Linked DNA regions of Homo sapiens: region 2 is linked to region 1. Evidence: fine-mapped expression QTL. A gene starts in region 1. The other region holds a variant in brackets. All regions are shown on one strand. Distances are from middle to middle.

Region 1 (5,386 bases):
TTCTTCCACACTTATCACTACTTCAAAATTACATCTTTTACACCCACTATTAGATATTGTTTTTTAGTGCCCTAATAAAGAAGCATCTCTATTTCTTTTTAAAAAGTTTTTTATATTTCATTATTCTAGTTCATTTTTTTCATATTTGATTTTGTATTTTGATTATTCTAGTTCACTTTTTTCACTGTATTTGTTTTCTTTGCAACCCTATGTATTTGTTATACATTTAAAAACATTTGGGATCCACAGGCTCACAAGATTTTGAAAGGATTTTAAGACACAAAAAAAGGTTAGTAATACCTGCCCTAGAGAAATTCTTCTGGCGGAACCAGGAGACATCTACAAATAAATTCAAACAGCTTTGTTTATAATAGTCAGATGGACAAAAAAACAAGGTATTTTCATGTAATAGAATAGCATACTAAAGGGATGTGAATTAATTATTACAACTGCATTAATGTGGTTGATTTGCAAAAGCCTAAAGTTATAGCTAACAGTTATGTAACAAAATAATAAAATTAGTTAATAAACAATCTAAAACAGGCAAACCAAAGCAATATACTCTTTAGAGTTATATACAAATGTAGTTGAATTATTTCAGAAAAATCAATGTAATAACACAAAATTTGGGATCATGGTTACTTGAGGGAATTGGAGGAGAGGGTTGTAAGAAGAATGTGACCAGGAATGAACATGTATTGAGCTTCTGAGTTGCTGGCAATACCCTTTTGCTTAAGCCTTGTGGCAAGAGCACAGACATTCACTTTATTATTCTTCTTTAAAGTGTACAGATATCTCATATACACTTTCATACCTATAATAAATGTTTGATATTACCTTCTTAGATAGGTCATCTCTGTCTATCCAATCCAAAATAACTACCCAGTTACTCTATATCATACGAGCCTATTTTAATAATCTAGTTTTTTGATAGGATTTTTCTAGCTTTGAACTGTCTATCCTTTGGACTATTTGTCAGAATTTCAGGATATGCAACAATAATTTTCAAAATATTTATCCTATACATTTTCCAGGCAGTTTAGGGATATGCTTTTTAAAATAGCCACAGAACAATATTACATTTTAAATTCTGTCTAAAAGCTACTTTCCACTGCAAATCTAAAATTACCTTAATAATCACATATCTTTTAAAAATAAATGGTAAACTGAACTGGTTTTACAATTGGGCTTCAAAGTCTGTGCCACTTCGTAGCAATGAAACTGAGAAAATTCTCTTTTCAGACTTCACCTTTCTCACTTAAAAAACGGAGATAAAGCTTAACTCACAGTATTTGAGGATATTTAAAACCTGTGAGAAAGAGAATAGGAGAATATTTTAGCTACTTAGAAGCACTTAACAATGTTTAGCCATCTCTCAATTGTAGCCATGAATTTTGCCCCTATCTGTATTTTCCTCTTGGAAATTCCTCTTGGAAGTTCCCTGTATCTTTCTGCTGGATGGATGCAGTTAATGATGAGACTAGGGAATGGCAAAGCCACCGGGTAGAAGCCTGGCTCCCTAATTCACTAAGTATAGAAGAGCTACCTGCCAACTAGAAAAACCCACTTTGTATTCTTATAAAAAATAAACTCCTATAGTGTTTGAGTAATAATACACTTTTTTGAGTGTTGATTTACAAGAGCTATTTAATCTACCCTAATTAATATATTATTGAAAGATACTACCAAATGCTGAGTGTTCTGGCCTTCTTCCCTCCTCAGCCTCAGGAAACTGGCAGCAAGGCTTTTCTCACACAGATAAGATACTGGAAGTTTCCCTTCCCTAACACTGACTACACAGATAAATAACTTGCAGATAACAGTTTGGGGGGAGGGGATACAGCCTTCAGTGAAATACCCAGGTCAGATCACCTCACAGTGAAGCCCACTATTTGAAGAGATTCACCTGTGCTTACAGTGCTTTTAACATGTTTTTCTCACTCCAAAATATATTTTTAATGTAAACATCAATAAACGCAGGAAGGAAAGTGTATTTTGAGGGAGTGGTATGAAGAAACCTAAATCCTAAATATCCAAGTCAATAGCTAGAATCCTGACCACTTTTAGAATTCCACTAGCACCTTTATTCGTATCTTACTTTATTTTTCTTTATATTATTTGACAATCCCTGATATATTTACTCTTCCTTTTTTTATCTGTTTCCTCCATCCTGGATGTTCCAAGAGGACGGGACTTTGAATTTTGCTCAATTCTGTACCCCAGTTTCTGGAAAAGTGCCTGGAACATGGAAGGAATTTAGTAAATATCTGTTGAATAAGTAAATGGATTGGCAATTACAGGGTTTAAAAAAAAAGGTCTAAGAAAATAATTTACTCATATAGATCCAGTCCTGATACAAATGATTTTTTTAGTCTTGCATGGTTACAAATAGATGTCTCTCTTCTAGAAAAACTGAGGCAACCCTTCCGAAATAACTAATTTTAAAAAGTCTCCCTTCCTTTGAACAGACAATTCCAAAGCTCTTCCACAAGGCACAACCAATACAACCCAGGTCATGGCCCTGCAATCCCTCCCTAGTCCTCATGATGTAAGCAATATTACATTAATGTTTACAATAATGTAATTATTAGCAAGAATAATGTAAACATTAATATAGATTACTGTAAATTAATAGTGTAATTAATTACTGTAAATTAACATAAGCATTATTAGATGCAGGAAGACAAGTGAATTTGGGGGCAGTGGCATCTATGAGACATAAATCCTCATCTGCCACAGAAGGAAGTCAACACATACTATCCATAACTGAAAATGCAATAAACAGCAGAAAACACTACTTACTTAAAAATACAGAAACAAGCATTAAATGAAACAGCTTGAAATGTTGAAGGTGGTTACTCTGGGAACCAACACTCCCGGACTGGGAGGACTAGACCAGGGTATGTTTAACTTTGACTTTTTCATTTCAGGCTCGATGCTGCCATTTCTCTGAGCTCGTGGAAAATTTAATCTAAATCTTAATTAGGAGCCTTCTAAGATGGAGAACACATTCATTGCAGAGAGGTCAGGCTCAAATACACGTCTATCACAACATCTAAAACTTAACTCGGAAAAAACCTCCACGATTTTAAATACAAAGCACTGCACATGCACGCACTCAACACCTCTCCTTCTTTCCCCATGGTCAACACACCCACAACCCCTGCACATTTACCAATCTACACAACTGAGCACTGGAGCGAATGAGGTGAGTGAGGGCCCAGAAAGTTGAAGCAGGAACGATCCGAGCCTTCAGTTAATCCTAACGTCACCTCTAACGTTTGGGGTAAGAACGTTTCAGGAAACCAAGGGGGAACCAACGCTCAGCACAGCAGAGAAAGACACCAAGCTACGGGACCCGCCGCGCCTCCCGCGCCGGGGTGGAGCTGACCCCGCCGAGCCCCGCCCCAGCCTGCGTCTGCCAATGATCCAGGAGCCGCTCCTTTCCACTCGGGAAACCTTCAGAGGAGTCTCAGAAAGGACACGGCTGGCTGCTTTTCTCAGCGCCGAAGCCGCGCCATGCTCGTCCTCAGAAGCGCCCTGACTCGGGCGCTGGCCTCACGGACGCTGGCGCCTCAGGTACCGGCCACGGGGGTACCCAAGCCTTCACCCGACGGGAGGGGAGGGGCGGGGCGGGGAGTGTTCCGGGTACGTGCGAGCAATGCGCATGCGCTCTCCGCCACGCGCGCCCAGACCTGGGGCCCCGGTGAGGTTCTAGCGTGAGCCCCGGAACCCCAAGACAGGGGTACCCGGAACGCGCGTGAGGAGGAGGCCGCTGCTAGGGGAATACCCCCAGCCGGGGTCGTCTCGCGGGCAGTGGTGGTCAGAAGGCTTTTCTAGCCTGGATGCCACACCCACCGGGACACTCCCATGGCGCCGGCTGTTTCGTTTTTGCTGCCCAGCTATGTCGCGGCTGCGGCCCAGCGAGCGCTCCCATGTTGTCACCTGGCGCTGTGGAGCCGCGGGTGGAGTCGTAGCTTTCCAAGCCACCGCCCTCTCTAGACATCAGGTTGAAGGAGGGAATTGTCAACCAGCCGCTTGCCACGGAACCGGCCTCCCCCTTTTAAATGAAGCACACAACTTCCGAGCATTTCGCGGAGACCCTTGAAGAGGAGGCCCAGGGTCCCGGTGGGGCTGGACCCTGCCCGCCACCCGCGCTTCGTGTGGTCGCTCCCCCAACCAGGCGGGACCGGAGCCTCCTATCAAACCGGACGATGACAGACAGACTCTTTTAACCTTAGATGAGAAATGGACAAAATGGAGCTTGTGATTCTGCCCTAACTTTCGGGAGTGGCCTATTCTGTGGCTTCAACCTAGAAATTTCTTTTCCTTTTGATGTTTAGGACTTTACTCCTTTCTGAAGGGGCAGGATGGGAAGGGGATTAACCTGTCCTAGAGACAGACTGAGGAGCACTAAAGAAGAGCAGCTCATGTCCATTCACCCCGGGTTAACAATGCAGTTTTTACCCTAATGATTCTCCAGTGGGGCAGGGCCAGGAATGACGTCCTTATGGCATGATTCCAAACTTTAAGTTTTTAGAAATGTCCATCAGTTGTTCTCTTTTAAGTGAAGTGGAGGTCGTTGCTGGTGGGAATGATCCCTAACTTGGAGATAAGGGAGGATGGACGACTCATGATTTCTGCCCTAGCAGCTAAAAGTCATCCCTGCAACAAAATTCTTAACTCCCATCCGGCTCCCCCACCATACCCGGCTCCCCTGCAGTCTTCCTTCTCTGGCACCACCTGTCCACATCTCTCTCCCTCTCTCACTGTAGGTTCCCTACTGTATATTAATACTGCCCAAAATTGTAAAAATGTGTACCTTTGATCAACTATTTTATCCTCCAAATACAAATTCCTCGAATCAACCTGAAATCCATTTGTCACAAATGCCCCATTGGCCTATCTCCTGATATATTTTATTATAATAATTTTGAAATTATGGATACTAGGCACTTGCTTCTTGACCAACATTGTTACTAGAGTTTGGTTTAAAAGCACAAAAAGAGTGTCCACAAAAGGCAGGGGCAGCTGCAGCTGTTTTTGTTGGTAGGCTTAGTCATTTGAGCAATAAGAATATAAGTCACACACGAATAGAATTAACTCTAGATAATTATCATTAAGCCTTATCATACACAGTTACATAATTTTGTATTTTGTAAACAAAAATATGTCGGAGCAAAAGCCTACTGCTTTCAGACAGACATACTGGCTAGTCAGTATAAGCCCTAATTTGTCCATAGCTTTGTAGGTATCAAAACTGTCTTCACAGATTATTCTGGTGTAATCAACTTAAGGAAATGGCACATGCTATTCAAACTTAAGTAAGATGGATTTATAAGAATATCACGAATGCCTGTGTGTATACCATGAGTGCATATATATA
Region 2 (5,386 bases), 21 kb after region 1:
ATAGCTTCCTTTTATATTAGTTACATTCCAGTCCTGTTTTTGACCGGTAGTCTTCATCAGTAGATTCAGGAAATACTTTGACCTGAATAGCCCTTCCTGTTTTTTTAGGAACCTTTTAAAAACAAGAGTTTTTTGTTAGTAAACGTATTTTTGGGCCTGCCAAAAGGCATGTGTACTTAATAAATTTTTTTCAATGTGTGGAACTAATACATATGGTATTGAGTAAGATGGAATATTGGCTAAACAGGGGAAAACCCTTTGTAAATTAAAGAGACTAAGTCTTAAATGTAGTTCTTCGGTAAAGGAGTATCATTATGATCCCACAGCCTTCTTGTGAGCAAATTCTCGTGAAAAAATGGCTAGAGGTAGACCCCTGCTAGGAAACAGTTGCTATATATTCATCAGAATTAAGAGTAGTTATCTTTATTGACATCTCTATGTAAACAAGTGTATATGGAGAATTGACAACAAAAGTAAACAATGGATAATGAGTCTATGTGTGTTCCTTGTACCAGACTCAGATTTGGTTGTAACCAAATCTGTAATTGTACCTTCCCAAGATATTTACATTTGTCTTACCTCCTTCAGGTGTGTTCATCTTTTGCTACGGGCCCTAGACAATACGATGGAACGTTCTATGAATTTCGTACTTATTACCTTAAACCTTCAAATATGAATGCGTTCATGGAAAATCTTAAGAAAAACATTCATCTTCGGACCTCTTACTCTGAATTGGTTGGATTCTGGAGTGTAGAATTTGGAGGCAGAACGAATAAAGTGTTTCATATTTGGAAGTATGGTAAAGAGTCATCCAGTTTTAGTATTCAGTATAGATTTTCATTCTGTTAAATGTAACATAAGACTTAGTTCTTGGATCTATATTACCATAGATACATACAGGTTAAGTAAGACTTTTTAAAAGCAATACCAAAAAAATAAATTTAGCAGATCTTCTTCCCAGTGGTACACCTCTAACCACCCCTTGCTTGAACTCTTATGTTATCATAAATGAGAAAACATGCAGTCTCATATATCAAACCATAAAATTGTGAATTAGACTTTAATCCTCAGAAAAATGTTAGAATCGTTTGCTATAAAGATAGCTCATGAAAAATTTAAAGCAGTAATTGTAAATGTTCAAGTGGGTTAAGATCACCGTTGGGCCTGCCAAAAGACATGTATATTTAATAAAAATGTTTTAAATGTGTAACTAATGTATATGGTATTGACGAAGATGGAATACTGGCTAAATAAGGGAGAAAGCTTTGTAAATTTATGAGACTCCTAATTGCAGTTCTTGGGTAAAGGAGTGTCATTAGGATAAGATAATTTTTTTTTTCTTATTATTGTTACAGCTAGGGCTGGATATCAGCATTTTTGCAGAAATAATTCACCCATTTGGGAGCTTTATAAAAATGGAGGTTTTTAAAGGATGATAGTTAACTTTTAAGCGTCACCCAACTCTGAGATTTAATAATTCTGTTATGTTTAGAGACCACTTCTTTTTTCATTTCTGTACCCCAGAGTTTCAAGGAATTCTTTCATACTACCCTAGGGAGGTAAGGAAAAGGAATGAGAGACAGTCCTTCCCATATTGAAGCTGACCTACCCCTGGTTTAGTAGAGGAAAGAGAACAAGTAACAAGAATCCCCAGAATGTTTGTTACTTCCATGTCTGTTCTTAACAGTCCACATCAGGACTTGAGGATACCTAAAGAACTTTTAATAATTTCATTTACTGTTTAGTGATCAGTGTCCAAAGTTAATAGTCATAAAGTAATTTAATATGAAAAGTGTTCATTCTATGCTTGACGTAACTCTTTAGTTTTTCCCTGTTATAATAAAACAGACCCTATTAAAACATAATTTATGCTTTAGATAAACCACAAGTTGAAACATGTCCCATTGAAAAAACTGCTAATAAAGTGTTTATAATTCATTTATATGCTTTAGATAAACCACATATATAATCCACTTATGTGCGTTAGGTGAGCCACAAGTTTAATTGTGTCCCATTAAACTGCTCGTAAAGTCTTTACAATTCACTTGTAAGATAGGTGTTATTCCTTATCCTCAGCATAAATCATATAATTCATTTACTATTAGTCTTAGGAGGCCCTAAAAGTAAATATACTATAGTTGTCCCTCTGTATTTGCAGGAGGTTGCAGGAGGTTGGTACCAGGAACCCCTGTAGATACCAGATTCAGCTCAAGTCCATTATATGAAACAGCATACTGTTTCCATCAAACCCACACACATCCTTCCATATACTTTAAAGCATCTCTAGATTATTTTTAATCCCTAATACAATATAGATACTATGTAAGTAGTTGTTATACTATATTATTTCACTTGTATTTTTAAAAAATATTTTTAATCTGCAGTTGGTTG[A/C]ATCCACAGATGCAGAACCTGTGGAGAGGGAGGGCTGACTATACTAGGCCCATATCTTGGTAAATGTATATACCTGTTTGGGTAACTTAGAAAGAAGAGAAATAAGTTGTAGAGAAAAAGAATTACTGACAAGAAATAAAAGAATCAGCACTATTTCATTGGGAGCTGTTGTTCAAAAAAGAGGCTTAAAAAGTGCATCTTAATTTCATTTATGTTAACTTTGATTCAAAGTGTACCTTGACCTAATCACCCACCACCAAGGAAAAATAGTCTTTCTCTATAAATCAAATGCTTCCATTGATAAGAATCGTTAACATATACTGAGTACTAACTAAGGTGCCAAACACCATTCTAAGCTCTTTTCATGTACTAATTCATTTAATCCTCACAACAACACTGGAGGTAGATGTTATACTATTTTCTTCACAGAATAAGAAACTGAGGCACAGAAAGATTGAATAACGAACCTAATTCACACAACTTCCTAAGAAAGTCTTAGAGCCTATAAAGCCCATTCTATGTCAATTAAGTTAGTTTTTTACATTTCAACTCCCCTTTTAGACCATGAGTAACTTGAGAGCAGTTGTCACATATATTTATGTTGGCATCTCCAGCGACATAATAACATGGGGTTCCCATATGGCCTTGCACGTTTGCTGAACTGAGTAAAATTCAAGTAAAAATATGGGCGATTTTAAATAAAAAAACATTTTCTTAACTATTTTCCTCCCATAGATAATTTTGCTCATCGAGCTGAAGTTCGGAAAGCCTTAGCCAACTGTAAGGAATGGCAAGAACAATCTATCATTCCAAATTTGGCTCGCATTGATAAACAAGAGACGGAAATTACTTACCTGATACCATGGTCCAAATTAGAAAAGCCTCCAAAAGAAGGTGAGTTCTTCCCTCTTAGACTATGAGTTTTAATGAGTAAAATACTAAAGACCTAAAGTTATAAAGAGTAAAGTTCTATAGGAAAAAAATATATAATTCTTTGTTTTATATAATAATATATGATGAGTCTGGAGATAAAAATGAATTAGAGACTGGGCGCGGTGGCTCACGCCTATAATCTCAGCACTTTGGAAGGCCGAGGCGGGCGAATCACTTGAGGTCAAGAATTCAAGATCCGCCTGGTCAACGTAGTGAAGCCCCATCTCTACCAAAAATACAAAAATTAGCTGGGTGTGGTGGTGCATGCCTGTAGTCCCAGCTACTAGGGAGGCTGAGGCAGGGGAATGGCGTGAACCCAGAAGGCGGAGCTTCCAGTGAGCCGAGATCTCGCCACTGCACTCCAGCCTGGGCGACAGAGCGAGACTCCGTCTCAAAAAAAAAAAAAAAAAAGAGAATTAGAGTTCTAGAGCTCTTTGCTTATCCTTAAAACATTGAGCTTATCCTTAAACATTGCTTATCCTTAAAACAAAAAATGAAGTATTTTTCCATATTGAAATCTAACGGATGCCTAACAAAAGTTGACATGGTCAATACAGGTGAAAAAGTGGGGCTTGGGAGCTAGGAAAACAGGTGTAGGTAGATGAGTCGTAGTTCATGAAATTTTGTCACAGTTTTAAAATGTATAAACTTTTAAATATAAAAGTATTTTTTCCACAAAGTCAGCTAATCTTAAATCATTAAGTACATCTTTGCTTGTAAACTGACTGTTTTGGGGGAATGAATTAACTTACACTGCTAAGCTACATTATTGTAGTTTAACTTTTGTGTCTTCCTCTTTCTTGTTTCTCAGTTTGAAAAGATTTGTCTTCTTCCTGATTTCACTTCTTGCTCACTAAAGGAAATAATTACCTCTATCTAATTTTAAACAGAGGTCAGATTCGAAAAGCATAAACTAATTTAAATTTCATTTTATGTCTCCCATAAACTCAACTTTGTATTTTATTTTAGATTATAAGAGATTTGAAAAGTCTTGTTTGGATTCTAATGTACTTAAAACTCCCCTTAACTTTCAGCACTAAGTAAAACAGTTGACTTCTCAGTGTCAAGTCTTATTAATAGTTCCCTTCCTCTATGTTGTTCATAATTCTTTAGTAACTTTGTATTTCTTTCCTTTTTCTTGTCCAATCTACCTTGTCCTCTAGTTTCTTTCTCTCCACCCATCTTATACTTCTGGCCAGAAGGTAGAATGGTTTTTAAGCATTTACCTGGATATTTAGGAAGAATAAAACCATCTCCTTGAGGGTTTTCTTTTTTTCCTTAAAGGCTCAGACATGACTTTGGGTCAACTAGAAATAGAATCCTACCGGAGAAAATTATACAAAGGAAAAAGTTATTTCCTCTCAAAATTGAAAAGGAGAAGGAAATGTAGGATATCAGAAAGTACTTCTCTTATGCATTTCTTTTTTAAAAAGTGTAGACAGGCAGCTTGAAAATTCTGCTTCATTATACATTCTCAGTATCTGTTTTCCTGACAAATTTTATAGATTAAAAATATTTCAGAGTGTAGTTTATATATAGCTTCCAGTCCTTTTTCTTTATTTTCTTTATGATTAATTTTAACAACTGACCCTTAAACATGGACAAAGACTTTCTAAACATAAAAGCAAAGAAAAATAATGCAGAGAATCAATAAATGTGACTGCATATGTATGTATACATGGATTATCCTCTAACTTCATTGGTTAGCCTTCTAATGAAATCAGGAAAACCTGGTTAGAAATTGTTTGAATGTCTTCTGTGAAATAATTATTTTTCTCCCTATTCTAGGAGTCTATGAACTAGCTGTTTTTCAGATGAAACCTGGTGGGCCAGCTCTGTGGGGTGATGCATTTGAAAGAGCAATTAATGCCCATGTCAATTTAGGCTACACAAAAGTAGTTGGTGTTTTCCACACAGAATATGGAGAACTCAACAGAGGTACAGTTGTCCATTTGTTCTATGAAGTTGCCATGTGTATTAGATCAGTTCGTCTCTCTTTTTCATTTTGGTACCTGTTTTAATTTTTATCTCCAAATTTTTAGAGTTTGTTGTTTATAGGATT

The links. PIP is the estimated chance that this variant, and not a neighbour inherited with it, causes the effect. A credible set is the group of variants that fine-mapping cannot tell apart.
Region 2: its variant is the best candidate, but not a certain one, in a credible set for the expression of NIPSNAP3A in gastroesophageal junction (GTEx, PIP 0.62).

The regions. Positions count from the first base shown.
Region 1 is chr9:104,744,274-104,749,659 of GRCh38, forward strand. NIPSNAP3A (nipsnap homolog 3A) reads left to right here and starts at 3,410. Exons shown (of 6, transcript NM_015469.3): 1 at 3,410-3,579. The coding sequence starts at 3,520. LOC107987105 (a long non-coding RNA gene) reads right to left here and starts at 3,366. Exons shown (of 5, transcript XR_007061705.1): 1 at 3,176-3,366. RefSeq lists a silencer at 3,304-3,393 and an enhancer at 3,814-3,973.
Region 2 is chr9:104,765,737-104,771,122 of GRCh38, forward strand. NIPSNAP3B (nipsnap homolog 3B) reads left to right here. Exons shown (of 6, transcript NM_018376.4): 2 at 589-799; 3 at 3,127-3,285; 4 at 5,113-5,262. Among named protein-coding and RNA genes, the nearest start is that of NIPSNAP3B, 4.3 kb to the left of the region's middle. The variant A/C (reference allele first, on the strand shown) is at 2,392.